Linked DNA regions of Homo sapiens. The protein of the gene in region 2 interacts with the protein of the main gene of each other region in a biochemical or structural test. Each region holds a gene or a part of one and is shown on either strand. Other genes may lie near its edges.

Region 1 (11,798 bases), on a different chromosome or scaffold from region 2:
TCCTTCCCTATGAAACAGAAGTGTGTACCAATGACTAAGAGAGCCCAGATTCTAGAGTGAGGATGAGTCGAGCTGGAGGCCAGGCTCTCCCACCTATTAGATATGTGACCTTAGAAAAATGTTACAGGTTATGTTCCCCAGAGAAGACACCTTGTGGTCTTAACCCCTGTTAAGTGTGAATGTGATGTGATTTGGAGACGGGGCCTTTGCAGATGCAATCAAGTTGAGGTTGTACTGGATTGGGACGAGTGCTAATGCCGTGGGACTGGTAGACAACTCACTGCAACCTCTGCCTCCTGGGTTCAAGCAATTCTCCTGCCTCAGCCTCCTGAGTAGCTGCAACTACAGGCACAGGCCACCACACCCAGCTAAGTTTTTGTATTTTTGGTAGAGACAGTTTCTCTGTTGCCCAAGCTGGTCTCAAACTTCCTGAGTTCAGATAAGCCACCCACTTTGGCCTCCCAAAGTGCTGGGATGACAGGCGTGAGCCCCCGCACCCAGCCTGGGACTGGTATGCTTATGGAACAGACACAGAAACAGACATGAGGGGAGAACACACGTGATGACAGAGGCAGAATGGAGTGCACCTGCAAGCCAAGAATGCCAAGGACTGTGGGCCGCCAGCAGGAGCCAGGAGGAGACAGGGCAGATTCCATGAAGAGACCCTGAGGGACTGCGTGATGTTGTCAAATATATATTTGGTCTTTGTATGTTTCCTGGTATAAAATTCCTAAAATCCCTGGGAAAGAGTTAAGTATCTTTTTGCATGCTAATGAGTTGACTGGTGGCTGGCAGCCCCTAGAGAGCTTCAGGAATGGTGCTGGTCACTAGAAAGACCAAGGTAGGATAAGACAGTTGGGACTTTTTCCCCACCCCTCAACCTCCAAGAAGGAGGGAGAGAGTGAAGGTTGAGTCACCACCAATAGCCCATGGTTTAATCAGTCATGCCTATATAACAAAGCTTCCATAAAAATCCAGAGGACAGGGTTTGGAGAACTTCCCAATAGTTGAACATGTGGTGATTCCTGGAGAATGGTGCCCAGGGAAGCTATGGAAGCTCTGCGCCCTTTTCCCATGCTGTGCCCTACACATCTCTTCATCTGTATCCTTTGTAACATCCTTTATAATAAACCAGTAAATGAAAGTAAGTGTCTCCCTGAGTTCTGTAAGCTGCTCTAGCAAATTAAACCCAAGGAGGGGGCGAGGTGCAGTGGCTCATGCCTGTAATCCCAACACTCTGGGAGGCAGAGGTGGGAGGATCAGTTGAGCCCAGGAGTTTGAGTCCAGCCTGGGCAACATAGTGAGACCCCGTCTACACAAAAAAAATTAAAAAATTAGCCAAGGGTAGTGGCACACACCTGTAGTCCCAACTACTCAGGAGGCTGAGGTAGAAGGATCGCTTGAGCCCAGGAGTTTGAGGCTGTGGTAAGCCAAGATCGCACCACTGCACTCCAGCCTGGGCAACAGAGCAAGACCCTGTCTTTTTTTTTTTTTTTTTTTTTTTTGAGACGAAGTCTAGCTCTGTCGCCCAGGCTGGAGTGCAGTGGCTTGATCTTGGCTCACTGCAACCTCCGCCTCCCAGGTTCAAGCGATTCTTCTGCCTCAGCCTCCTGAGTAGCTGGGACTATAGGCGCATGCCACCATGCCCGGCTAATTTTTTGTATTTTTAGTAGAGACAGGGTTTCACCATGTTGATCAGACTGGTCTTGAACTCCTGACCTCGTGATCCGCCCACCTCAGCCTCCCAAAGTGCTGGGATTACAGGCGTGAGCCACCACGTCTGGCCCTGTCTCTTTTTTGTTTTTTTCAAAAGAAAAGAAAAAAATCCTGAGTTTGTTTTCTTCCCCCATATCTTCAGAGACACTTGCTCTGCTAACACCTTGATTTCAGACTTCTACCCTCCAGAACAATGAGAGAATAAATTTATGTTGTTTTAAGCCACCCAACTTGTGGTACTTTGTTACAACAGCCAAAATACAAAAGTGGGGTGCTGCTGGAATAAATGGTTAAATGTAACAGTGGCTTTGAAATTGGATCAGGGCTGGAATAATTTTTTTTTTTTTTTTTTTTTTTTTTTTTCAGATAGGGTCTTGCTGTCTCCCAGGCTGGAGTGCAGTGGCCCAATCTCAGCTCACTGCAGCCTCAATCTCCTAGGCACAAGCGATCCTCACACCTCAGCCTCCTGGGTAGCTGGAACTATAGGCCTGCGCCAGCATGCTGGGCTAATTTTTGTATTTTTTGTAGAGGCAGGGTTTCACTATGTTGCCCGGGCTGGTCTTGAACTCCTGAGCTCAAGCAATCTGTCCATGTTGGCCTCTCAAAGTGTTAGGATTACAGATGTGAGGCACTGTGCCTGGCCAAAGCTGCAAGAATTTTGAGGTGTATGTTAGGAAAAACCTAGACTGCCTTGAAGAGACTGCTGGTAGAAATATGGACATTAAAGGGAATGTCCCTGCAGGCTCACAAAGAGGAGAGGTGCAGAGAAATCTCCTATCATCTTAACAGGATGCATATATTGTTATGAACAGAAGGCTGCTAGAAATATGAATATTAAAGGTGTTTCTGGTGAGGTCTCTGGAGGAAATGAGGAATGTGTTATTGGTAACTGGAATAAAAGTTTCCAATAAAGGTGGCGCAATCATGGCTCACTACAACCTTGATCTCCCAGGCTCAAGCAATCCTCCTGCCTCAGCCGCCTGGGGAGCTAGGATTACAGGTGCTGGGGTTACAGGTGTGAGCCACTGCACCTGGCCCAATTTCTCACTTTTGAAATGGGAATGTCTATCCTATGTCTGTCCCATCACTGTATTTTAGAAGCAAATAACTTATTTTCTAGATTTCACGGGTCCGCAGAGAGAGAGAGAGAGGAATTTTGTCCCAGAATGGACCATACCAAGTCTCATCCAAAACTGATTTAATGATTTAGAAAATAAGATTGGGACTTCTTGAGTTGATTATATTTAAATGAGATTTTGGGCTTAAGAGTTGATGCTGGGATGGGTTAAGACTTGTAGGGATATTGGAATGGGATGTATATATTTTGCAGATGGGAAGGCCATGAATTTGGTGGGGGCTAGAGAACAGTGTGTTAAGGGTTGAACTGTATTCCCCTGAAAAGGCACTTTGTGGTCCTAACCCCTAGTAAATGTGAATGTAACCTTATTTAAAGTAGGGACTTTGCAGATATAATCAAGTTGAGATGAGGTTGTGCTTGGTTAGAGTGGGGCTAGCCCAACATGACCTATGTCTTTCCAAGAAGAGAGACGAACACAGACAGAGACACATGGAGAACACCGTGTGATCACAGAGGGAGAGACTGGAGTGACACAGCTGCAAGCCAAGGAACTCTGGCCACCAGCAGAAGCTAGAAAGAGGTAAGGAAGGTTTCCACTCAGATTCTCAGACGGAACCAGGCCCTGCCAACACCTTCAATTCAGACTTCTAGGCTCCAGAAGTGTACAGGAATAGGTTTCTATTGTTTTAAGCCACCCAATTTGTGTATTTCGTTAACAGTAGACTTAAGAAATGAATGCAGCAGGCCAGGCGCGGTGGCTCACACCTGTAATCCCAACACTTTGGGAGGCCAAGGTGGGTGGCTCACTTGAGGTCAGGAGTTTGAGACCAGCCTGGCCAACATGGTGAAACCCTGTCTCTACTAAAAATGCAAAAATTAGCCCAGCACGTGCACCTGTAATCCCAGCTACACGGGAGGCTGAGGAAAGAGAATCACTTGAAACTCGGAAGGCAGAGGCTGCAGTGAGCCAAGATCATGCCAGACTTCAGCCTGGGCGACAGGGCGAGACTCTATCTCAAAAAAAAAAAAAAAAAAAAAATGACTGCACCAAGTTGCTTATTCCACCTCTCTAGAACTCAATCTTCTTATTGCCAAATGAGGATAACAACAGTGCTTTGTGGCCCACATCAGATTGTTGTGAAATTAAATAAGATCCTGAATGTGAGGAAATTATCCTCAGCACGGGGACTAGCACTTAGCCGTGTGGCCTTCATTGTTATTTTGATGGGTTTTATTGATTACCGTCTAAGGGTCCTTTCTGTTTTAATCAGAAGGAGTCAGGAGACCGAGGGAGCACCCAGACTAGGGCAGAGGGTACCAGTAGAAGCGGGGAGGGAAGTTGAACGATGGGTTTTCCCACTACCTAGGATGGCTGGGAACCCAAGAACATGGAGGGCAGTGTCTCCTGCAAGTCAAGATTAGGGGAATCCATCCTCCATTAACTGACAAGAGAGACAAGAGGCAGCAGAGGACAGGGTGAGGGGCGTGGAGAGCCATCTCTCCCACTCACTCGAGACAGTGAGACTTCCAGTGTCTGGTGTTTCTCCTTTCCCTGCACCCGGAGCTGGAGCTGTTGGGACGTCTCTGTGGCCTCTGGAGAACTTGTTAGTACCACACAGTCTGTGGGAGGCAGAATCAGGAAGCCAGGGCTAAGTGGGGGCTTGGAAGCAGGGCCCGTGCTGAACCTCTCCCCATATCCCCTTCCCCTGGCAAATGCCTCAAGGCCCCACCTCCCTGCCTTCCTCTCACCAATGATGTCAGCCACTCCGAGCTTTAGGGTCCTGGGAGTGGCAGTAGGTGATAGCTCTGTCTCTCCAAAAAGCAAAAGGATCCTGCTTGGGGACACCCCAAGGTGGGTGGCCATGTGGTCCACCACACTCTGCAGGGGCTCCGACTAGGGATGGGGACAACAAGCAAAAGAGGTCTTCCTGCCTTGAAATCCATGCCCCCAGCCACACCACCCAAACACAAGCTCTGGCCTTAGCTACTTGCTAAGCTCCTCAGCTGTGAGTTTCATCATATTTACCTGGCAAGGTATAGAATAAAATCGTGTCAGCAAGGGGTACAGGCGAGTAACACAAAGAAATATAGCAGCCATGGGTTAGAACAAAGAAAGGGGTGGTGGGGATTGCAGCAAACTGGAATTCACATGCCACCTAGACAGGCTGGCTGTTACGCAGCTCCAGCTGATTGGCACTGTGTGGGAACGTGGGCCAGTATGACATCTTCCTATATTTTTCTTTTTTTTTTTTTTGAGACGGAGTTTCGCTCTTGTTAACCAGGATGGAGTGTAGTGGCGCAATCTCAGCTCACTGCAACCTCCGCCTCCCAGGTTCAAGTGATTCTCCTACCAGGCTGGTCTTGAACTCTTGAATTCGGGTGATCCACCTGCCTCGGCCTCCCAAACTACAGGGATAACAGGTGTGAGCCACCGCACCTGGCCACATCTTCTTATTTTTTAAGAGAAGCCAGAAATCTGGACCTTTTTTTTTTCTTTCTATTTTTAGTAGAGGCGGGCTTCACCATATTGGCCAGGCTGGTCTTGAACTCCTGATCTCAGGTGAGATCTGAGGCAGAGTCTCGCTCTTTCATCCAGGCTGGAAGGCAGTGGCACCATGCCCAGCTAATTTTTGTATTTTTAGTAGAGATGGGGTTTCACCATGTTGGCTAGGCTGGTCTCGAACTCCTGACCTCAGGTGATCTGCCTGCCTTCACCTCCCAAAAGTGCTGGGATTACAGGCGTGAGGCACTGCACCCGGCCAGAAATCTGGACCTTTGTATGAAATCACCCATCACAAAGGTGACAACAAACTCGTATATTTTTAAAGCACTTGGTCAGGCATGATGGCTCACACCTATAATCCCAGCATTTTGAGAGGCCGAGGCGGGAGGTTTGCTTGAGGTCAGGAGTTCAAGATCAGCCTGAGCAACAAAGCAAGATCCCATCTCCATTTTTTTTTTTTTTTAAGAGACAAGGTCTTGCTCTCTCACCCAGGCTGCAGTGCAGTGGCATGATCACAGCTGACTGCAGCCCCCAACTCCTGGACTCAGAAGATCCTCTTGCATCAGCCTCCCAAGTCGCTGGGACTACAGGTATGTGCCACCATGCCTGGTTAATTTTTTTATTTTTAGTAGAGACAAGGTCTCACTATTTTGCCCAGGCTGGTCTCGAACTCCTGGCCTCAAGTGATCCTCTCACCTTGGCCTCCCAAAGTGCTGGGATTACAGGAATGAGCCACCATGCCTGGCCCCCATCTCTATGTTTAAAAAATAAAATAGGCCAGGCACGGTGGCTCATGCCTGTAATCCCAACACTTTGGGAAGCTGAGACAGGGGAACACTTGAGATCAGGAGTTCAAGACCAGCCTGGCCAATATGGTGAAGCCCTGCCTCCACTAAAAATACATAAATTAGTCGGGCATGGTGGCGGGCACCTGTAGTCCAAGCTACTCGGGAGGCTGAGGTGGGAGAATCGCCTGAACCTGGGAGGCGGAGGTTTCAGTGAGCAGAGATCGTGCCACTGCACTCCAGCCTAGGCGACAGAGTGAGACCCCGTCTCAAAAAATAAAAATAATAAAAAATAATAAAATAAAATAAAATAAGTCTACAAAGAAAGCAGACACACTGTTGGAAAAGCCATGGGCTGCCAGTTTGCAGCCTCTGCCTTAGTTGCTTGACTGATGCACTGTGCATCAGTAATGGTAATGTCTGTTATCATTCCTGGTGTTGAAACAGGGTCATCCCTACAAAAATATCAGGCTTCGCCAGGAAGCTGGTGGAGTTCAGGGTGACTGAGTGACATCTGCTGTGTCCAGGGCAGTGAGAGCAAGCCCAGGAGGGAAGCCCAGGTTCCTAGGGAGGAAGGCAAGAGAGACTACCAAAAAAAGCTTCTTAGAAGACAGGATGCTTCACACCTGGAATCCCAGCACTTTGGGAGGTCAATGAGGGACGATCACTTGAGCCCAGGAGTTCGGAACCAGCCTGGACACAGTAAGACCACTTTTTGAAGGAAAAAAAAAGACACAGGATGCTTATGAGGAGCCTTGAAGAATGGGTAGAAAGTTTGCCAGAAAGAGAGGGGAGCGTTGGGAAAATGCAGACAGAGGAAACAAAAAGTGTGAAGGCAGGACAGACTGAAAAGAATGATGGGCAGCTCTAGAGAGCAGGATGGGAAAAGGATGACAGTCCCTTCTGCCAGGACACCCCTGCTGGACACCACCATCTCTCCAGAAGCAGCTCCTGGGTCCTTCTCCCATGGGCCTCAGGCACTCACCATCCTGAGGGGCAATCTGACCAGGTCAGCCCGGCAACGGATTTTGAGTGGGAAGAGTCGGGGGGTCTCTGGGAGGGTGGGCCCTTCCACCAAGACCACTTCATCCTCTTGGCCCTGTTGCTCTTGACCCTGAGGTGGCTTGGGGCTCAGACAGGAACGGAGATCCTGGAGGCGCTTGTTCACCTCACTGCAGTGCAGACAGGACTCTGGGTCAACTGGAGTCAGCCACCCTCCCGGATTGCCCTCTTCCATCCCAGCCAGAGCCCCTGCACTTGGCACCTTAACTTCTTGAGTGCCCGAGTATGCGTTCTGCTTTTGGTCCTTGGTGAAGGTGGGGACAGAGGAGAGTTGTCCAGATCCCTGTAGAAGCAAGAGACAGCAGGACGGAGGCAATGGAGAGAGACTGGCCCCACAAATCCTAGAAATCAGATCCTTGGACAATCAAGCATAGTCGGACGCAATGGCTCACACCTGTAATCCCAGCACTTTTGGAGGCTGAGCCAGGAGGATCGCTCGAGCCCAGGAGTCCAAGACCAGGCTGGGCAAGATGGGGAGACCCTATTTCTACATAATTAGCCAGGCATAGTAGAACACAGCTGTAGTCCCAGCTACTCAGGAGGCTGAGGTGGGAGGGTCGCTTGAACCCAGGAATTTGAGGCTGCAGTAAGCTATGATCACGCCACTGCACTCCAGCCTGGGCAATGGAGTGAGGCCCTATCTCTAAAAATGTAAAAATACATTTAAAAAATAAAGAGGAAGCAGCTTCCAATAACCCCCATTTCACTGGAAGGCAGGGGTAGGGGAGAGGGAAAGCCTGAGGCATCATTTTTATATTTACATGACCTGAATATTAGGGAAGAAAATGCCTCATTTTTGAGACTGTCACTTCCCAGGAAAATGTCCAATAATATCCGACAGACGGCAAGCACTTACCATATGTCCAGTGTTGCCCAGGCTGGTCTTGAACTCCTGGGCTCAAGTGATTCACTCCCCTTGGCGTCCCAAAGTGCTGGGATTACAGGCAAGAGCCATTGTGCCTAGCCAAGTGTTAACTCTTGATTGACTCAGCAATTCATTGACACAAATGCCACTATTATCCCCAGGTTTGGGGGTATTTTTTGTCTGTCTGTTTGTTTGCTTTTTAGAGACAGGGTCTCACTCTGTCACCCAGGCTGGAGTATAGTGGCACGATCATGGCTCACTGCAGCCTCTAACTCCTGGGATCAAGCGATTTTCCCATCTCAGCCTCCCGAGCAGCTGGGATCACAGGCATGCGCCACCATGCCAGGCTAATTTTTTTTTATTTTTTGTAGAGACAGGGTCTCTCTATGTTTCCCAGGCTATAAAACGGGGTTTTATAGATGAAGAAAGAGAAGCACAGAGAGGACAGGGAAGCTGGATTGGAACCATACCTTAAGCTCACATTACTAGGGTCTCAGAATCCACTCCCAAGGGTGATCCTGAAGGGTTCACTGTCACCCTCCGGGGTAAGCCACCTCTTTTCCCCAAGCGATTCATTCCCCACATGAAACTCAACAGTCCTTCTATCCCTTCTTCTTAACCTTTCAGGAGTCACCCAAGAGTCCTGCCTGCCTCCGCTTACCCCTCCAACTCACTTCCTGCTCCCAGGGCCCAAGGGCCCTGGCCTCACTCACAGAAACTCTGTCTTTTTCTTCTCTTCTTTATCCTTAGTCCTCAGCTTTGTCTTCCAGGGAGAGCCTGGTGATGGGGAGCCCTCATGGTAGAGACCACTCGAATCTGCCAGCTCTGCCTCTGGGGGCAGAGGAAGAGAAGGTAGAAGGGGGTTATCCAAGGGAGGCCAGCGAAGGCCAAGAAGAAACAAGTCAGAGGCTTCAAGAAGGTCCTAGGAAAGGAGGAGACCACGGAGCCCCTGGCACACACAGGGCCACATGATAATATTGGGAAAGGGGGCAGGGGATGAGACTGCTATTTAGTATAAAGATAGCTCATATTAACTTAAAATTAACTTAAATTTCTCATGAAAGGAAACCAGGTATTATTTTCTATAATATAGAAATTTCTATTTGCCCGCTGTCAATAAAAGATCATCACAAACCACAAAAATAAATACTGTGAAAATTAAAAAATGATAAGAAACCCTAGATCAGTGGCTCTGAACCAGGGACAATTTTGCCTCTGCGGGGACATATAGCAATGTTTAGAGACAATATTGGTTATCAAAATGTGGAGGGCGAGGGGGCTGAGGTATAATACTTCCCAGGGATGGAAGTCAGGATGCCGCTAAACTTTCTACAATGCACAGGACAGTTTCCAACACCAAAGAATTTTCCAGTCCAAAAAATGCCAGTAATGCTGAAGTCATGAAATCCTGTCCTAACTAACTATGGCAGCTGCAAGAGGCCTATGATTCTGCATTTCGTTTTTCTTTTTTTTTTTTTGAGACCAGGTCCTACTGTGTCACCCAGGTTGGAGTGCAGTGGCATGATCATGGCTCACTGCAGCCTCGACTTCCTGGGCTCAGGTGTTTCTCCCACCTCAGCCTCCTGAGTAGCTAGGACTACAAGTACACATCACCATGCCTGGTTAATTTTTTATTTTTCTGTAGAAACAGGGTCTCATCATGTTGCGCAGGCTGGTCTCGAACTCCTGGGCTCAAGCAATCCTCCCATCTCAGCCTCCCAAAGTGCTGGGATTACAGCACTTTGAGCCATTGTGCCCAGCCGATCCTGCATTTCTAGCAAGCTTCCAACGGATGCCATATATGGCTGGGCCCACGTTTTGAGTATCAGGGATAGAGGTACCTTTTACGTAGCACTTCTGTGTCCTAGGTACTGTCCTAAAGCATATATCTAGCCAAGAGGCAGCTCTCTCTATATTCCCTTTCGTTAATTCTCACCAAAATCAGCACCAAAATGGGGTCTACTATTATCCCCACTTTGATAATGAGGAAATTGAAGCACTGAGAAATTAAGAAACTTGCCCAGGCTGGGCGTGGTGGCTCACGCCTGTAATCCCAGCACTTTGGGTGACCAAGGCAGACAGATCACCTAAGGTCAGGAGTTCGAGATCAGCCTGGCCAACATGATGAAACCCCATCTCTACTAAAAATACAAAAAAGCCAGACATGGTGGCGGGCGCCTGTAATCCCTGCTACTCGGGAGGCTGAGGCAGGAGAATGGCTTCAACCTGGGAGATGGAGGTTGCAGTGAGCTAAGATTGCGCCACTACACTCCACCCTGGGTGACAGAGTGAGACTCTGTCTCAAAACAAGAAAAAAGAAACTCGCCTAAGATCACACAGCTATTAAGAGATAGAGCTGAGGCCGGGCACAGTGGCTCACGCCTGTAATCCCAGCAATTTGGGAAGCTAAGATGGGCGGATCACCTGAGGTCAGGAGTTCAAGACCAGCCAGGCCAACATGGTGAAACCCCATCTCTATTAAAAATACAAAAAATTAGCCAGGCGTGGTGGGAATTAGTCAGCTACTGGGAAGGCTGAGGCAGGAGAATCGCTTGAACCCAGGAGGTGGAGGTTGCAGCGAGCCGAGATCGTGCCATTGCACTCCAGCTTGGGCAACAAAAGCGAAACTCTGTCTAAAAAAAAAAAAAAAAAAGAGAGAACTGAGATTCAAACCCAGGCCAGATGGCTCCTGTTTGCTTTTAATCACCCCACTGTACTCCCTCATGGTACAAGAGTCTTGGTCCAAGGTCTCCATTTGCCCACTGGATTATTTCCTTATTAGACTAGATTCCTATTCCCCGCCCTTGAGTTGTTTGCAAAAAATGCATCAGTGGGGGAGGACAAAGACAGGGCATCCCTGATAAGATTCAGAGAACACCCTGCTGGCTCCAGTGTTCCCAAAGAACTTGCTGCAGATGTAACAAGATGTCACAGATTCTCAACACCTTACCGCCTCCTGCCCCGCCCAGGACTACAGAATCAGCATCTCTTCAGGTGGCACCAGAAATGTATACATTAATACATTCTATGCTTGTTAACAATCCAGCTCCTGTGGCTGGGATGCAGGAGTCCCCTCTCCCACGCTCTTCCCTTGAGCCTCAGGAGACAACTGACTGCAGGAATATAAACCCCAGGAATTCTCTTAAGAGAAGCCAGCGGCTGCGTGCCTCTCCCTGGAGGCCCTCCCTTACCTTCCTCATCCCCTGGAGGGTAGAGTTTCAGGAGGGATAGATCATCTGGGATAAGGCGAAGGCTGCTTTTAACCTGCAAAGACAAAGAAGGGAGAGGGGTCAGGCCCAAGTCCTTCCCCTACCGAAAGAAAAAATTGGGGGTAATTCTTCCCTGACACCCAGCTCCCAAATCCTCCCTAAGATCGTGGACACCTTGGCCCTCTCCTGGCAACCTAGAAGTCCAGCTTCCCCAGGATTCAGAATGGAAGTACCCTTCACCCTTTCCTCCATCTGCCTAAGACACTCTGAAATGTATGCTTCCTTGCCCTTTTTAACTAGGTTACTAGCCGCCCCTCTACCCCTGACTCTTAGGGACTCTCAGCCCATTGCTCACACGACCATCGGGGGACCCCAGCCTCTGGAGCCGCCCAGTCCTCTCTGAACCCGCATGGACCCCAACCCCCAATACTGCAGCTCCCTGGCTTCATTTGCCATGGACCCCAACCTCAAAATCCAACGGCCCCAGGTCCTCCCAGTCCCTCTCCAAAATCTCAGGAATCCCAGCTCTTCAGCCTCCCTGTGCCCCCAAGACTCTAGCTCCTAGGAATCCTAAACTTCC
Region 2 (16,962 bases):
AAATTTCTCCACTCAATTGTGACTCAGACTAATACAAAGTTTCTCCCCTATCCTACACCTACTTATAGAACAAGAAGGTGGCCTCAGAGTGGACAGTGCAGTTGAGAAAACCAACCTGGAATAGAAAATCTCCCACGCCAGTCCAGCATGAGTGTGAGAGTTGGCCAAGATGGAAGGCTGTGCAGAGCATGACAAACACACGGGTCACACCCAGCATGCAACTTTGTGACCCAGCTGGGTCAAAGACTTCTGAAGGCCTAGAAGTGGCAAGGAAGTCCCATTGGCTTATGCTCCACCACAGCCCCCTAAAGCCACCTCCCCTGTCTGCTGTGGATGTGGCTGTGGGAGAGTGGCCAGGCAGGGAGGCAAGACCCATGAGCCACAGAACACCCAGAGAAGACAGAAGACGACCTCTCCAGGAAAAGGAAGTGTATTGTGCCTGTAAATTCCCAGAACTGGAGAAGGGAGAGACAATAAGCATCTTTATTATCCAAATTCTAGAGGAAATGGCTCTGCATAACAGCAGAACCTACTAGCTGCCAGGGTGGATGAGAAGTCACTCCTGAGGGTGGCCTCCATGCTGGATCTGCACAAGGGCTCTGTGAGTTTGGCGCCTGTTGGATGTCGGGCTGAGCCCAGTCTGCAGGGAACACAGCTGGCTGGTCCTGGAGCTCCCAGGAGGAGGCCTGGCCACAGGTGCCCCCTGTATACAATTGTGAAGGAAAAGCCTTCCTCCCAGGTATGAAAATGACCAAGGCTCCTTGCTGGGCAGAGGAGTGTCCCCGGCTTCATCGGGGCAAGCAGCCGGCCACAGGGTCCGGCCGGGGAGGCACTGGCACAAAGTTCATAGGGCAGAGCAGCAGCGGGCACATCTTCTCGTGCTCCTTCAGTGCCTCTGTCAGGTGCTTCAGCTCCTCTGTCAGCTTCCCGATCTCTCTCCGCAGCATGGTGTTTTCTTGCTCCAGGCTCTCATATTCCTGGGGGAGACAGAATGGGCAAAATCATTTCTGGTGCAGCGTTCCCTTCCTCCGTCCTCCTGTGCCGCGCTGTTCACCTCTTGCCCATGAAAGCTGTCTCATTACGCATGTCCCCTCCACTGCTCAGATATTCAGATATTTGTCTATTTGATGAGTGTCTCCCCCCTCCCACTGGGAGAAACAATTTATTGAGGTATAACTTACGTAAAATAAAATGTATCTATTTTAAGTATGATCCAGTGAGTTTTGACAAATGTATACACCTGTGTTGATCAATACACGGAACATTTCAATCACTCCAAAAAGTTCCCCATGCCCCTGTGCAGTTAGTCCCCCCAAATGCTGATGTGCTTTCCGAAGATCTCTATTGGGTTCACAGCTATATCCCCAGCACCTAGAACAGTACCTGGAACATAACAAATGTTTGTTGATTGCACTAACAAATGAATGAAAACATCCCTTGCCTTGGCTTTGCTCCAGCACTCACCTGTTCAGTTTCCTCTCCATCAGGGTTTACAGAGGCGTAGAACTGCAGGGTATCAGAGAGGTCCCTTAGCCCAATCCACACAATGTAGAAACCATCCATATCCAACTTGTTCTGGGCACTCCTGCCCTCAATGGACAGACTGTCATTTCTGGGCTGCTCTACTAGACAAATCCTCTTTGTTGGGCATGGTGACTCATGCCTGTAATCTCAGCACTTTGGGAGGTCAAGGTGGGAGGATCACTTAAGGCCAGGAGTTTGAGACCAGCCTGGGCAACACAGTGGGACCCCATCTCTAAAAAAATTTGTTTTAACTAGCCAGGTGTGGTGATGCACACCTATAGTCTCAGGTACTCAAGAGGCTCTGCCAGGAGGATTGCTTGAGCCCAGGATTTCGAGGCTGCAATAAGCCATGATTACAGCACTGCACTCCAGCCTGGGTAACAGAGAAAGATCCCAACTCAAAAAAACAAAAAGAGGAAGAAGAAAGAGAGAAAGAAAAAAAAAGAAAGAAAGAAAGAAAGAAAGAAAGAAAGGAAGGAAGGAAGGAAGGAAGGAAGGAAGGAAGGAAGGAAGGAGAGAGAAAGAGAAAGAGAGAAAAGAAAAAAAAAAAGAAAAAGCTCTTCTTTGTACTGATCCAAACACTCTCACTTTCAAATGTACCTGTTGGGTTTGGTTCCATTTAATAGAACCACATCTAGTAGATCCAATGCTTTTTTCAATATCGCAGTTCTTGAAATGTTAGGATACAGCATCTCAGGTCCTCTGAGTTCCTTGCATCAGGCTCTTCTTTGCCATTCTGGGGACCCTCACCAACACACACTCCAATTTACCAGAATATCTCAGAAAATGTTGCTCCCAGGATGCAATGCATGGTTCTGGAGACCATGCCAAGGGCAAATGTGTGGCAGTGACCTCTCCTGTGCTGGGCCCAAGCCGCTGAGGATTCTCTCTGAGCCTGCAGAGAAATGCAAGCTTTATCTGCATGTGCTGCTTCTCCGTCCGTCCTTGGATGATGATGGATGCTATGGGGCTTAAGGGTAGGATTTTACATCCATCTCCACTGAATTTCATTCCTTATTTGGACATCTTCCAGACCAGCAAAATTGCAAAATCTTTTGGAATCTCAATTGCATCGTCTCATGAATGGTGACAGCACACAGCTTTAAGCCATCCACTAACTTAACACACAGGTCTTCCTTTTCTTCATCCAAGTCATTAATAAGTTCTACAAAAAATAGCCAATGGCAGAGCTCTACGGCATGCCAATAGAGACCCTCTCTAGGCTGGCAATCTCATTTAAATCTTGCTGAAATGTTTTCGTTCATTTCTAGTTTATAGTAAGGCTTTGTTGTACCATGCACACCATGCATTTCCCAAGCTCAGGGCCCAATTGCGTTACTCATCACACTTTCTCTCTGACTAGTAATTTTAAGGGAGTATCACTAAAGAAATGTGATCTTATAGCCCCCAAAGACACATGCAAATTCTCAACCCTGCCCCTTTGCTCTTGCAGTTATCCTCAACTGGACTGCCTTCCTCCTTTTCTGCATGGGTCCAGCTCAAGCCCACCACCTCCAGGAAGGCTTCCCTGACCACAGCACCTACAGGAACCACATCTTTTATTATGTGTTCTATTCTATTTTGTATCATATTCAATTTCACTCATATGAAGTAATGTCTCCCCCCAAAGATCAGAAATGTAAAGGACCTAGGAACTTCTGCTACTCCTCTCCTCTACCCCCTGCCTGATGCGCCACAGCACCAGCACCTACATGCTCAGTGATTCCTCAGCCCTCATCCTCTGTTTCTTCTTTAACCCCATCCTTTCCTTTCAGAAGGGACTCTCAGCATCTTCCTCCCTTTAAGAACCAAGGGGTCTGGCGGGGCTGCCTGTAGGGTCTATCTGAGCCATTCCCCAGGCAGGTTCCCAGGGTGGTCTGGAGCACTCTCCAGGGCAGCAAGCTGTTCTGGGGCCATGTGGCTTCACCAGTACACTGGCCCCATTCTGCCTCTATCCTCCTCCCTGCCTCCCACTCCCAAGCCTTCATGCCCTCCTTTGACCTCTGACAAGCTCTAGTTCTGGAGTGAGAATTCTGTCTACAAATCCAGCCATAAGCTCTCCGTGGGCAAGGGGAGAGTCTGGATGGGAGGATGGGATGGAAGCCAGGGCGTCAAGGGAATCATGCAGGCAGCAGAGGGATGAGAAAAGCTGCAGCACACACACACGTCTGCAAACACACACTCACACACTCTCATACACATTCACACACTCTTACACACATACACATATACACACACTCACACACGTCCGCAAACACACTCACACACTCTCATACACAGCCCGACACACACACTCTCACACACACACACTCATACACAACCACAGACACACACACAGATACACACAGTCACACACACATCTGCAAACACACTCTCATACCCAGCCACAGACACTCTCACACACATACACAATCAACACACAGTCACACAAACACTCTCACAGTCACACACATACAGTCATACACACATACATACACCTCACACAGTCACACACACTCACAAAAACTCAGACTCACATGCAGACTCCCCACATTCACATTCACATACACACTCACACACACACACTCCACCCTGCAGCAGGAAATGCCCTTGACTTTCAAGTAAAATGGAGAGTACATTTGAATAGTTCCAATGTGCTAACATTTTAAGTAGATTCCAAAGGACAAGAAGCCCTCTTCCTTTGGTAGAATATTCCAAGCTGCCTTTCTACATATACTGAATTCCGCAGCAAGACGCTCTGAGCTTCCCAGTTTTGTCTCTGGAAGCCGTGCGCAGCCCTGTGGCCTGAGGCTTCCCTGAGGTCCACTGCCCTCCCCCAACCCATGCTTAGAGTCTTCAGAGCCGCCCGACAGGTGCCCCACGGGCCCCTCATCTGCCTTCTCCATAAGGACTTTCTCTTCTAGGATTTAAGCATTACTCATAAACCCGCTGAGGGACTTTTATTGAGCTGAGGGAATAACAAGAAGAGAAGAAGTCAAAATCTTTAGGTGAGACGAGCCCTTTGAAAATAACAAGAGGAGCTGGGAGGGAAGAAAGAAGAGGCCAGAGAACACTGAATAGCAGCAAAGGGGGAAGAAATGAAACCCACCTCACACCCAGAAGAAATTCCTGGAGTAAACGCAAACAAAAAGCAAGCAAAGAACATTAAACCCTTCATTATTTCCAAAAATATGACCCCTCTAGCTCGAATTCTGCCAAGTTCCAAATCCTTTGCCATGGGAGGGTTTGAGGTTGCTGTGCTCCCTCTCTGGGTATTTGTCGGGACAGTTTCAAAGCAGACACCTAAAAATTAGAGGTGGTGAAATCACTGTGGATCCCAGCTCTGCCTCAGAAATTAAGCTGCCTAAGGCAGTGGATCTCAAGTAGGGCAATTGTGGCAGTCTGCAGGGGACACTGGCAGTGTATGGAGACAGTTTGGGTTATCGCAGCTGGTCGGGGGTGCTACTACATCATGTGGCTAGAGGCCAGGGATGCTGCTCAACATCCAGCAGCACACAAGACAGGCCCCCAACAACAAGGAATTATGCTGCCCCATGCATAAACAGTGTTGAGGCTGAGAAACCCTGTTCTGGGCATCTAGGAGCAGGTGACTGGGATCAACGGGCTGCCTAGGGATACGCAGGGTCCAGGATGCCTCTGAGGCTGAAGACAGGATCAAGGACTGGTAAAGAAGTGGGTACCAGGGACCAGATATGACAACTAAGGTGAGAAAGAAAGAAGTAGGAACAGGCTAACAGGAGGCCATAGCCACACACAGACCCCATTTCACAAGTTAGAAAACTGAAGCTCTGAGAGGTACAGTGACTTTTCCAAGGTCACATAGACCTGGGATCTGACTCCTAACTTCAAGGTCAACTGCAACTCTCTTGTAGCATCAACAATTCTGCTTTTAGTTAGCAGTGCCTGGGTCCAGATTTCCCCATGATGGTTACCAGAAGTAAGAGGCCATAAGATCTCAGGACTTCAGAATAAGTCTACTCCCAAGCCTTCACTGATGCACTTCCCAGCAGAAAAATTGTGTTACCAGCAAGGGCTGTACAAATGAGTGCCACAATCAGTTTCTAAGCCACATGGGTGCTGCCATGAAGCTCTCAGAACATGCAATATCTGAAAAAACCATGGCAACACATACCACAATCACATTGCCCAAGTCATTTGTCAGTTTGTGACATTTGGGGCTCCTGAGGATGGCACTGCTGCTTTCCTTTTGTGACTCAAAATTCTTTCTCAGTCTTACACCTTTGGGGTGCCTGGTCGAGCCAGTCTGACCCACTTCTGAGCCACCTTTCAGCCTGGGTGAGATGAGACGAGACCCTGACTGTTCACTTTGGTTCTCATTTGTCAGTGTGGACTTTGGCACACGCCTAGTGTTCAGAGATGAATGCAGGTCGAAATCCCCACGGGAGGTGTGAGCGGGTTGAAGGGATGATTTGAAAGCCCACAGTGGACTCTGAGGTCTACAGACACACGTTAAGAACTGCTTCTCATCACCGTAGTCCAACTGCCAGCAACCACTGCCCAGAAAACTCTGCGTGAAGGGGAACCCCAGCCCCTGCCTCTCTGGCTTGGCCTGTGCAGCCTCTTCCCCCATTCTCCCCTCCACAGAGGGCTCGCCTTGACGGACACTCCTAGGACTTTGGAGATGGAGAACAAGGAGGGGAGGGAGGTGGCCGAAAAACTCCTAAGAGCTGCAGCTGGGGCAAGTTTCTCAGGGTGTTGGAGGCAACAGAGGCTCAAGTACTCACTTCAGCAGCACATACATTAAAATTGGAATGATACAGGGATTAACATGGCCCCTGAGCAAGGATAATATGCAAATTCATAAAGTGTTCCATATTTTTTTAAAAACCCAGGAAGACGAAAGAGCAAAAAAAACCCAAAAAAACCAGAGGCTCAAGTATAGGTAGAGTATGTGAGTGAGGTGAGGAGAGAAAAGTGGAAACTCTTGTTGCCCAGGCTGGAGTGCAGTGGCGTGATCTCGGCTCACTGCAACCTCCACCTCCCAGGTTCAAGCAATTCTCCTGCCTCAGCCTCCCGAGTAGTTGGAACTACAGGCGCACGCCACCACACCTGGCTAATTTTTGTATTTTTAGTGGAGATGGGGTTTCGCCATGTTGGCCAGGCTGGTCTTGAACTCCTGGCCTCAAGTGATCCACCCGCCTCAGCCTCCCAAAGTGCTGGGATTACAGGCACGAGCCACTGTGCCTGACCAAAAAGTGGAAACTTTAAACAAGTTTGCTCCAAATATCCCCCCTCAGGATATGCAAGAAATGCAAGTAAAGAGCTTGAGTTACTTTGAGATATTCAGGAATGCAATCCCTGCAGTGTGGGATAGAGGAACACATGAAGAAAGCCCTTTGATGCGCTACAGTCTCCAGGGAGCAGCAGGCAGTGGCTGTCAGTGGCTGTTTTCTGGGCCCTCTGGTGTCTCCCAATGAGCTGGCCTCACTCCAGATTTGAGGAGGAGGTTCCTATGCATGGTGTCCCCACCCTAGATTGGCCTGGGAGGTCCAGGGGTCCCAAGGGGCTTTCTGTCATGGCCCGCAGTAGTGTGCAAGGCGCTCTGTGCTCAACTCACTGGAGCTTGACAAAAGGGTTCTTTACACCATTTTTAAACCAGATACCTTGCCTCCAATAGTAGATTTAGTCATCCAATGATACACACAGCTACAATGCCCTCCTGGAAGGAACAGGGAAGGGATTACTCACGTGGTGAGTAATGATTTGGTTCAGAGATGATGTTCCTTTGGTTCTGCAGAAGGTTTGGGATATACTTCCATTTTCCTAAGCCAGTCGTCTGCTTCCTCACCCGCTTGTGACCAACGACACTTGTGTGGAGCTAGTGAGGCTAAGGTGAGGGCTACAGCTCTGGGGTCTGTATACAGGTGGAGCCGCTGTCCTGGCCTCTTTGACCCTGTGATTCTCAATAAAGCTGGTCTTGCTGAGGTGATCTGCCAGTGGAGAGTAATCCTGACCCATTCCTTCAGCCCCACAGAGAGAGAGGAGAAGGGGGTGCTCTTCCGTGGAGTGTCTGGGCTTCAGATCAACCCACCCCATTTCTGAAAAGGGCAGCTGGCATGACTGTCATGCAACACAGTCTCTGGGTTGGAGAGCAGGCCAGGGACCCTACAGAAGAGGTCTCCACCCCACAGTTCCAAGAGAGGTCAGATAGGGGTAAAGGTGGCACCACTCTGAAGTTCCCAGGCACCTGGTTCACTCAGTTATCAAATGCAGCAGTGACAGAAAGTGCGAGAGAGCCAACGCTTCATACAGGTACTTTTTTGATATTGTAGTAAAATTCCGTGAGTATTTACATTTACCTTCTGTGCTAGGCAGCATAATCGATTCACTCCTCACAGAAGTTTACATTCTAATCTCTTGAACCTGCGACTATGTCACCTTACATAGCAAAAGGGACTATGCGGATGTGATTAAGAAGCGTGAGATGGGGAGACTATCCTGGATTATCCAGGCAGACCCAACGCAATCATAAGGGTCCTTGTAAGTGAAAGAGGGTGTCGGGGAGTCAGAGAAGATGTGACAACGGAAACAGCACCAGAGTAACGCAGCCTGAGAAAAACGCAACCGGCCATTGCTGGCTCAAGGAGACTACAAGCCCAGGAACACTGAAGCCTCTGGAAGCTGGGAAAAGCAAGAAAACGAATCTTCTCCAGAACCTCCAGAAGGAAGGCAGCCCTGCTGCCATCTTCATTTTGACCCAATATGACCCACTTCTGATGTGTGACTGCCAAAGCTGGAAGATAGTAAATTTGTGTTGTTTTAAGCCACCAAATGTGTGAGAGTTTGTTTCAGCAGCAGTAGGAAATTAACATCCTTTCCTTGGGAAATTCTAGGCTTCCCACCGACAGGCAAGGCATGAGATCTTCCTCCTCTCTTTGTGACCCAATGGCAATGCCTTGGTATTTGTGAAATGGATCTACTCGACTGTGCTCCATGAAAGATCTTGTCCAAGATATTGTCCTCCAGATACGTATTCAGTCCAGATTTACAACTGATGTTTTTAAAACTAGTTTTTAAAAATATTAATGTACCTGGCTGGGACTAGGAGCTTCTTCAGGAGTAATGCCTTGGCCATCCAGCAGCACATGTGGTCTGAATACAGGGCCATGCACTAACTGGGAGCCACAGGTCCCCTCTGGGGGCTATTTTGGTAACATGACACTAGAACCACAATTGCTTCAGGAGCAAGGGGGAAGAAAGAAAGGAGGCAAAGGGCATTGCCGTTCTTCTGTGGAAATTCTTCAGAACAAAGGCTAGGAGGCACCTTCTGTGACACTAGTCTAGAGACCTCAGTCTCTTTCTAGGGCCCAGCCTTCTTACTTCTAGGAAAGAATCTGACATTTATGATTTATGCCACACTGTGAATTTATATCGGAAGGTCACCTCTCTGTGGAGTATGTACATTCTAAATTTGTTCTCTGTTCATTGTTAGAGTTTTAAGATTGCCCTTTTCCTCTCCTCTCCCCAACACACCTCAGAGTTTCCATGTTGCCAATGCCCCAGAATGGCCTTGCTGAGACGAGCATGGCAGGAGACCTGGCACAATGCCTCATGCCTGTAATTCCAACACTTTGCAGGGCCAAGGCAGGTGGATCGCTTGAGTCCAGGAGATTGAAACTACTCTGGGCAACGTGGCAAAACCCCACCTCTACAAAACTACAAAAATGGCCAGGCGCAGTGGCTCACACCTGTAATCCCAACACTTGGGAGGCCGAGGCGGGTGAATCACGAGGTGAGGAGTTCGAGACCAGCCTGGCCAACATGGTGAAACCCCATCTCTACTAAAAATACGAAAAATTAGGTGGGTGTAGTGGCGGGCGCCTGTAGTTCCAGCTACTCGGGAGGCTAAGGCAGGAGAATCGCTAGAACCCAGGAGGCAGAGGTTGCAGTGAGCTGAGATCATGCCACTGCACTCCAGCCTGGGCAAACAGAGACTCTGTCTCAAAAAAAAAAAAAAAAAAAAAAAAAAACCTACAAAAATAAGGGCTGAGGGGATGAGGTGGGAAGATTGCTTGAGCCTGGGAGGTGGAGGCTGCAGCGAGCCATGATCATGCCATCACACTCCAGCCTGGGCAACAGAGCAAGATCCCGTCTCAAAAAGACAAGAAAGTATAGCAGGAGAGAGCTAAACTAAAATCTTTAATTACACACACCAACCCCGACAAAGACAAGAACATGGAATGGTGGCCCATTCCTCAGATAGATCCTTGGATGCTTTCAAGGCCAGTTCCTGGTATGGAGCAGCTCCACGTCCCAACTGCAGGATTATGCAGGTGTATGCATGAGGGCGGAGGGAAAAGGAATGGCTTAGGATAAATCCTAGGCTTCTGATTTGAGTGATGAGAAAGATGGTTCGCTCCATTAACTGCAGTTTGAAGACAATGAGAAGAGAAAGTCTCAGGGTAAACGGACAATAACACTCTTTTATGGATGTGGTACATCACAGGAGCCTGCAGTGGACCCATGGAGAAACAGCTCAGCAGACACTGAAGCTATGGGGTCTAGGGTCCAGGACAGAGGGCCTGCCTGGAGTAATCAATGTTGGGAGCTGATGCTGGGAGAACAGATTAATAGATTAAGTCTTCCAGGGTGAGAAAAAAAAAAAAGGGCAGAGTTTGAAACACTGGTCACCACCAACATTTAAGCCAATAAAGGGTCGAAGGCTAACAAAGAAATAGAGAAAAAAATCGGCGAAGAGGGTTAGGAAAACTAGGAAATGTGGTCTTTTAGAAGCAAAAGAGGGGAAAGCTTTAAGAAGAGATGGGTCCAAAGTGTCGAATGTTCTAACAAGGTAAAGGATGATGAGACCAGAAAGAGAGTCCTGGATAGGGCAGTGCCAGGGCACTGATGGCTGCAATGGGAGCAGTTTCTGTAGGGTGTGTGTGTGTGTGTGTGTGTGTGTACACACACACATTGGGTACATGTGTGAATGTGTGTGTTTGTTTGTGTGTATATATATGTGTGTTGAGTGGAAAGGGGGTAGCAGAAATTAAATCACAGAGGATTGGGGAATAACCAGGAACCAGGGACACAGAGACAACAGGTGTAACTACTCTTTTTTAAGAAGCAAAGATGTTAGCGGATTACTTTGGAGGGAAACAAAACAAAACAGGAAGTAAGGACGTGAGGGAAGAAAAGAAATGGAGCAAGAACTTGAAAGGGAATCAGGGTCCAGAAGAGGCTCTGTTTTGTTTTATAATGAAATAAACTTGACCATGAGAAGCACTCAGTGGATGAGGGAGAAATGAACACGTCCGTGAGCAAACAGTGAGAACACTGGGCTGGAAGGACCTGGCAGAAATTAGATATGAGTGTTGCTGAAATCGTGATAAAGAGAACAGTCATCACCCCCACTCCCGTGCAAGGCAGAGGCTGTGTGGCTCTAAGGTGGCTTGCCCCTACCACGGTCTCACCTCATGGAGCTTGTCAGCCTTCTGGGTCTGCTTCTTCCGACTTCTCTGAGCAGCAACTCGGTTTTTTTCTCTCCTTCGGACCTTCCTGTCATCATCCTCAGGGCTCTGGGGAAAAACACTGGGTGGGTGTGATGTCGTGGCCCCTCGCCTTACCCTTTTCTGCCCTGTCTCATCACTCAGCGTTGTTCACTGAGCTTCATCATTTGCTTTGCAGTAGACAGCACCACTAGTTGCTATACCAATGGGCTCACAACAGCCCCTTGCCCAGGAGCACTCACCATGTGAGTGTGTGAAGTGTGTGGTGTGACCGCCGTTTAAAAGATGAGGAATAAGAAACTCAGAGAGGTTAAGGACCTTGCTCCAGGTATTACAGCCACTAAGTGGGTGAGTGGGAAGTGGAACTCAGGTCTGTTGGTCTCCAAATCAACGTTCATAAACCTCTAGCCCACAGGGCGTGTGCCTGGAAGAGCTGTGGTGTCAATGTCGTCCATCTGAGACTGGAAAGCTGGGTGGGGGTGGGGGGCGGTGGAGAGATCTGCTATCTGGAACTTGCTGTTTGCCAGTCCTTATACCACCACACATGAAAGGTACTTTTGATACTGCATGCAAATCATGATTACACTTACAACTAATTGCAGCCACATAACTCTACCAACACACCAAATGATCTTAAACCCCACTGACAGTGTACTCATTTGAACAATGCTTGGCTGACATTTTGTTTCAGAAGTCAGCAAATTTTTTATGTGTCTTGAAAGCTGTTAGCTATATGTAAGATTTAACCAAATTCAGTCAAATCCCTCAATAGTGATCATGAAACAGGCAGGCGGAAAAATGCACTGACCATGGTAAAAACACTTCAATCAGCTATAGAAAACATGAAAAAGGAGAGCAGTATTTGCTTTCTAGAACCCCATGAGAAGACACCACCAAGCGGGAAAAATACCACACTTACAGAGTTTAAGAGCCAAGAGGTACAAACAAGGAAAACTACTCAGTTATTAATATTCACGGAATGCAAATATTAATAACACAAAAAAGGATATTTTCAGTTATCATTTGATCTCATCTTGTATTCCACATAAGACACACATCTTCCCAAGTTACTGCAGGTAAGAAGTTTCAGATATGCAAGAATATAAAGGCATAAAAAGGAGAGGAATAAATAACATACATAGCAAATAGAAGCTTAAGGGAACAAAGTATGATAATACAGTCTTCTAGAGAGGCAAAGAAGTCTTGATAAACAAAACCAGAACATTACAGGGGAACATGTGGTTAGAAGACAGCTCTTTAGCTTTAGAATCACACAGATCCTAGTTTTGTCTCTTAGTGTCAACATGGTCTTGTGTAAATGGTTTAAATTCTCTAAATTTTCAGTTTTCTCATTTATTGTAAGCATAATTCATTCATTCTTTCAATATGTATTAACTGAGCACCTACCATGTGCCAGACACTGTTCTAGACACTGGGGATACAAGCCCTAAACAAAGGGTCAGTGAACTCTGCAGACTTGGTGCTAACAGCCTAATGCTTAGGATTGGGATGCGATGAAATGAGATTTTGTCCTAAAGCTCCCAGCATACAGTATGCCCTCAAGAAGTTACCTGCCTTTGTTGAAGTTGCTACTTTAAAAAAAAATGTATTCTGCATAGTGCTTCTCATGCCTCTTTGCTCTCTGTAATCAAAAAGTCACTAGCACAAGAAAGCAGCCTGCATACTGCCCTCGGGGAGCTGACTCTAAACTGGACTCATCACCATGATCACACCTGCCAACCCAGCAGAAACATTTAATCAAGACAGAAAGAGGTGAGCGAAAGTTAGAGATAGTATTATGTTATTAACCATATCTGATTCAGTCTCAAAAATCCTGAGAGGTTGATGTTACTATATTCATTTTACAGATGGGGAAATGGACGGTCCGAGAGGTTAAACAAATTGCTCAAGGCTGCTCAGCCTGTGTGTGGCAAAGCCCAGGCCCAAACTCAGATCTCTGTGACACTCCAGCGACACCTGATGACATGGGCCGGGCGCTGAATTGGGAAGGTGGGGAGTAAGGATGAAAAGACCCAGTCTTCGTCGTAAGGCAGGTGGCCAAGACCCAGGCAAAGTTTCCAGACGGCCGTCCCTGTGGCCAACCTGGTCTCCTTCCTGACTGCGCCGCTGTAAACGTTGCTAGGGGACAGCGAACTGGGAAGGGGCAAAGGGTTTCCACCAGCTGGGGGCGGAGTCGGCCCTTTGTGGGTTCCCTCCGCCCAGGCTGACTAGTCCGGCGTTCTCCATTCCCGCGGCAGCACCCCCCCCACCCGGGGGAATCCTGGAGGGGCTACAGGCGCGGGTGGTGGGGTGGCAGTCGCTGGCTGCGCCAGGATGGGGCGGCCCTCAGGGCAGTGCGGAGCCCACGTGCCGGGGAGCACCGGCCATGCCCGGCCCAGCCAGGCGTCGGCGCCCTCGGGCTTCTTCCCCCAGAGGGCGCAGGAGCTGGCTCAGGAGCCATTCCAGGAGCCGCGGACACTGTGCGCACGACAGGGTCCCTGGATCGCCCCCATTCCCCAACATCCCTACGCCCCTACCTCTGCTTGTCTCCGGCCGCACCCGCCACCTCTGCACCTCCGCAGTCACCACCACGGAACTCCAGCACCCACCTCCTCGCCCCCCGCGGCGCGCCGGTCCCCGCACCCCACGGCCCTCCCTGAGCCTCTCGCCCTCTACCTGCTGCTGCGGCTGCGGCTGCGGCTGGTTCCCGGGCGCCGCGACGCTCCTCTGCAGGACGCTGCCGGCGGCCGGGAGCCCTTGCGACATGCCGGGCGCTCCTCTGGCCCGGCCCGCCCCGCCCCGCCCGCGCGCCCTGCCCGTGGGGCTGCCTACGGGCGCTGTCCCGCCGCCGGCATCCTCGTGCCGCACCCACGGCCTCGCGCCGGCCCCGCCCCCTCAGGCTTCCCGCTCTCCCCGCTACTCCACGCGTCGGCCCAGTGTCCCCGCGCGCCAGTCCCGGCAGCCGTCCTTCCCGTCCCACGTCTGCCCCGCCCTCCTTCTCCCACCCCCGCCTCGTTTCCTCCTCTGCCCGCCCTCTCTCCGCACCTCGGGGTCCCAAATCCCACCCCTGCCGCGGCTTTCCGCCGGCGCCCCGCGCTTCGTGGAAGTCACGTGGTGGCTCTGAAACCCCGGAGGGAACGCGAAGCCCACCCACGCGAGGCGACGCCCGGGGGGGTGGGGACCAGGGGGGCGCCATGCAGCCTTTGGGGTCCTTCGGCGGCTGCCGGGGAACTCAGGTTGAGAAACACAGTGGGTGTTTTGGGGTCGGTGTTTTTTCCCGGTCCCATCGCGGCATCTTCCTGCGCCTCAGCCACGCCCTGCGTCCGCCCCCCGGCGCGGGGGTCACAGTCCCGGGGGACTTTCTCCGCGGCGATCAGTCATCCGGGCGCCACTCTCGCTCCTCCAGCGGCCCCGAAGCCGCGGCTCTGGGGTGAAGACGCCGGCTTCACCGAGTCCCACCGCGCACCCCGAGCCACGGGCGCCCCAGGGACTCTGCAGGGAGTGCCTGCCCTTCCCGTCTCGGGTCCGCCGGGCTGTGGGAGGGAACGAGGCGGGGCGGCCCCGAGGGTGAATTCCCGGAGCGGAGGGTGGGCATGGGGAGGATGTCCCGGACAAAAACGGTGACGGGCTTCCCTGAGAGCGAATCTGCCACGTGGGACGTCACTAGTGACAGGTTTGGGGATCTGGACCCGCCATGCCACGGTTAAACGGCCCAGATCATTTTTCTTTTTCAAGATTTATCTGCTCGTGCCAAGCTGGGGACCGGGTTGAGGTAGGGCAAGTCCCTGTCCACCTGCCTGCCAGTCAAAAGATGCGAAGCCAAGACAATTACCCGTGGTCCTAGCGAAGGAAACACTAGCGGCCACAGGCTGTGGTCTGCATGCTGTGAGCACCGGGAAAGATAACCGCGATTCGGGATGGGCGGGTGGGAACCAGACCAGAAGGGCAGAAGTGCCTACCAAGTGTGGTCGCTTGGGTCTTCAGGTTTGTGGGCAGCAGTGGGCATGGGGACAGTCATTTCCGATTCCTTTTTAAGTCTTAAATGAGTGCACGTGCCCCCCGCCAGGATTTAAGACCCACTCTTGCAAAAGCTTTGAGAGAGCTTGAGTGAACTTGGCTGCCTGGAGGCCAGCGGGAAAGCGAGCGGAGATTCTTGTCTGTGTGATCAGAAGCTTCGGCCAACTGAGAGGCGGGGAGGAAGACGGAGGGTGGACGCAGCCCTTTAGAGTTGCAGCGCCACACTCCACAGCAGCAAGGCTGCGCAGCAGAGCCAGCGCTACGCTGGGTTATCTGCCCGGATTAATCTTTTCCTCTCCGTTATTTCATCACTCAGCTTAACTGGTGGTTGCCCCAGGACTATTTTGCATCCCACAAGGTACCCACACAAGGTGCCTAGCATAGCACGCTACATACACTCAACAGGTGCTCAGTATATGTATTGCACTAGGTCAGCTGAAAGCTCTCATTCCTGAAGCACTAAAAGGGCTCTAACGAGCTAGGAAAACATCTGGGTCAAGGGGTTATCATTTTCAGAAGTGATTTCATTCCCCAGTGTTTTTTATGCACAGAAAAGGCAAGGTAGAAACACCTCGGGAACATTCCCGTGCACTCCTACACTTTATTCTGGTCATGCCCACTTTTCTCACTGAACCACATCACATTTTAAGTCCTTTGGGGCTGCTGCTTCCCTGTCTCTCCCCAGGGAGCCTGAAACCATGTCCCAGCACACACGAACTCTTTATATAGGCATAGTCTACTGTCTTGTGTTACGCAAGGGTTTCTTCAAATACATTTAGTCTTGGTTAACTAGGTAGCATTTAGGGCAGAGATCAATTTGATGTAAAGATCATACATCAAAATGAATGGATTAAATAGCTAGATACAGAAATGAAAATCAGAGAGCTAAAGCAGAATTAAATTCTTATTTAAGTCATGGAAGCATAGGCAACATAGTGAGACCCCCAACTCTACCAAAAATTAAAAGAAATCAACTAGCTGAGTGTGGTGGTGCACACCTGTAGTCCCAGCTACTCAGGACGCTGAGGCAGGAGGATCACTTAAGCTCAGGAGTTTGAGGCTGCAATGAGCTATGATTGCACCACTGCACTCCAGCCTCCAGGGCAACAGAGCAAGACCTTATCTCAAATAAATAAAATAAAGTTGTGGAGATAAGATAAGGAAAGGATCTTATAAGAATACATGTAATAGGAGAAATTGACTTGATAAGATCTGAACTATATAAAAGGGCTAAATTGTTTTAGATGACAGTATAACCAGGAATGTAAAACAAACAGATTGGATAAATACAGTGCATATGAGAAAGGGTTAATATACAGCCCACGAAAAAGAAGAAGAAGAATATTGAGACAACCCGCAAAGGTAAATTGCAGAAGGGATATGAAATGGCATTTCCCAGCAGAAGAAATAATCAAGGAAAATAGGTATAGGAAAATATATATTAAAATAAGAACCCTTTTTAAGTTAGCAAAATAAAAAGTAATATCAAATGCTGGGGAGAGTATGGTGAAATTGGTACTCACATGTTTCACTGGCTTCATTGTAAATTGGCACAAACCTGCTGGAAAGCAGTTTTACTGTCACTTTCAAGAACCATAAAAGAGTCATCACTTTTGACTCAATTTTCCTACTGCTAGAAAATCATCCTAGAAACATCATTGAAAATACTAGGGAGAAAAATACTATATGCACTAGAAGTTCATAATAACATTTTAAGAGTGAAAAATGTAAGCAACATAAATGTCCGATTATAGTTGAATGGCTAAACAGAATATGTTATTGCCACAGGATAGAATGTTATGCATCTTTAAAATTACAAGCATGCAGGCTGGATGCAGTGGCTCTCACCTGTAGTCCCAGCTACTCTAGAGGCTGAAGTGGGAGGATCATTTGAGCCTAGGAGTGCAAGGCTGCAGTGAGCCATGATTGCACCACTGAGTTCCAGTCTGAG

The links.
Region 1: the proteins of BATF3 (region 2) and NFATC2IP form a complex in vitro, tested with the Homo sapiens proteins (one study listed by BioGRID).

What each region holds. Positions count from the first base shown.
Region 1 is NC_000016.10:28,951,607-28,963,404, reverse strand, and holds part of NFATC2IP (NFATC2-interacting protein), read right to left. Parts: intron 11,274-11,798; coding exon 11,201-11,273; intron 10,504-11,200; exon of another isoform or gene 8,841-10,503; coding exon 8,723-8,840; exon of another isoform or gene 8,407-8,722; intron 7,428-8,406; coding exon 7,347-7,427; intron 7,255-7,346; coding exon 7,068-7,254; intron 4,823-7,067; exon of another isoform or gene 4,744-4,822; intron 4,689-4,743; coding exon 4,544-4,688; intron 4,415-4,543; coding exon 4,305-4,414; intron 1-4,304. UniProt on the Homo sapiens protein: In T-helper 2 (Th2) cells, regulates the magnitude of NFAT-driven transcription of a specific subset of cytokine genes, including IL3, IL4, IL5 and IL13, but not IL2.
Region 2 is NC_000001.11:212,686,003-212,702,964, forward strand, and holds BATF3 (basic leucine zipper transcriptional factor ATF-like 3), read right to left. Parts: upstream 13,839-16,962; 5' UTR 13,761-13,838; coding exon 13,671-13,760; intron 11,064-13,670; coding exon 10,959-11,063; intron 6,366-10,958; exon of another isoform or gene 6,262-6,365; intron 2,420-6,261; exon of another isoform or gene 2,125-2,419; intron 1,898-2,124; exon of another isoform or gene 1,868-1,897; intron 978-1,867; coding exon 789-977; 3' UTR 415-788; downstream 1-414. UniProt on the Homo sapiens protein: AP-1 family transcription factor that controls the differentiation of CD8(+) thymic conventional dendritic cells in the immune system.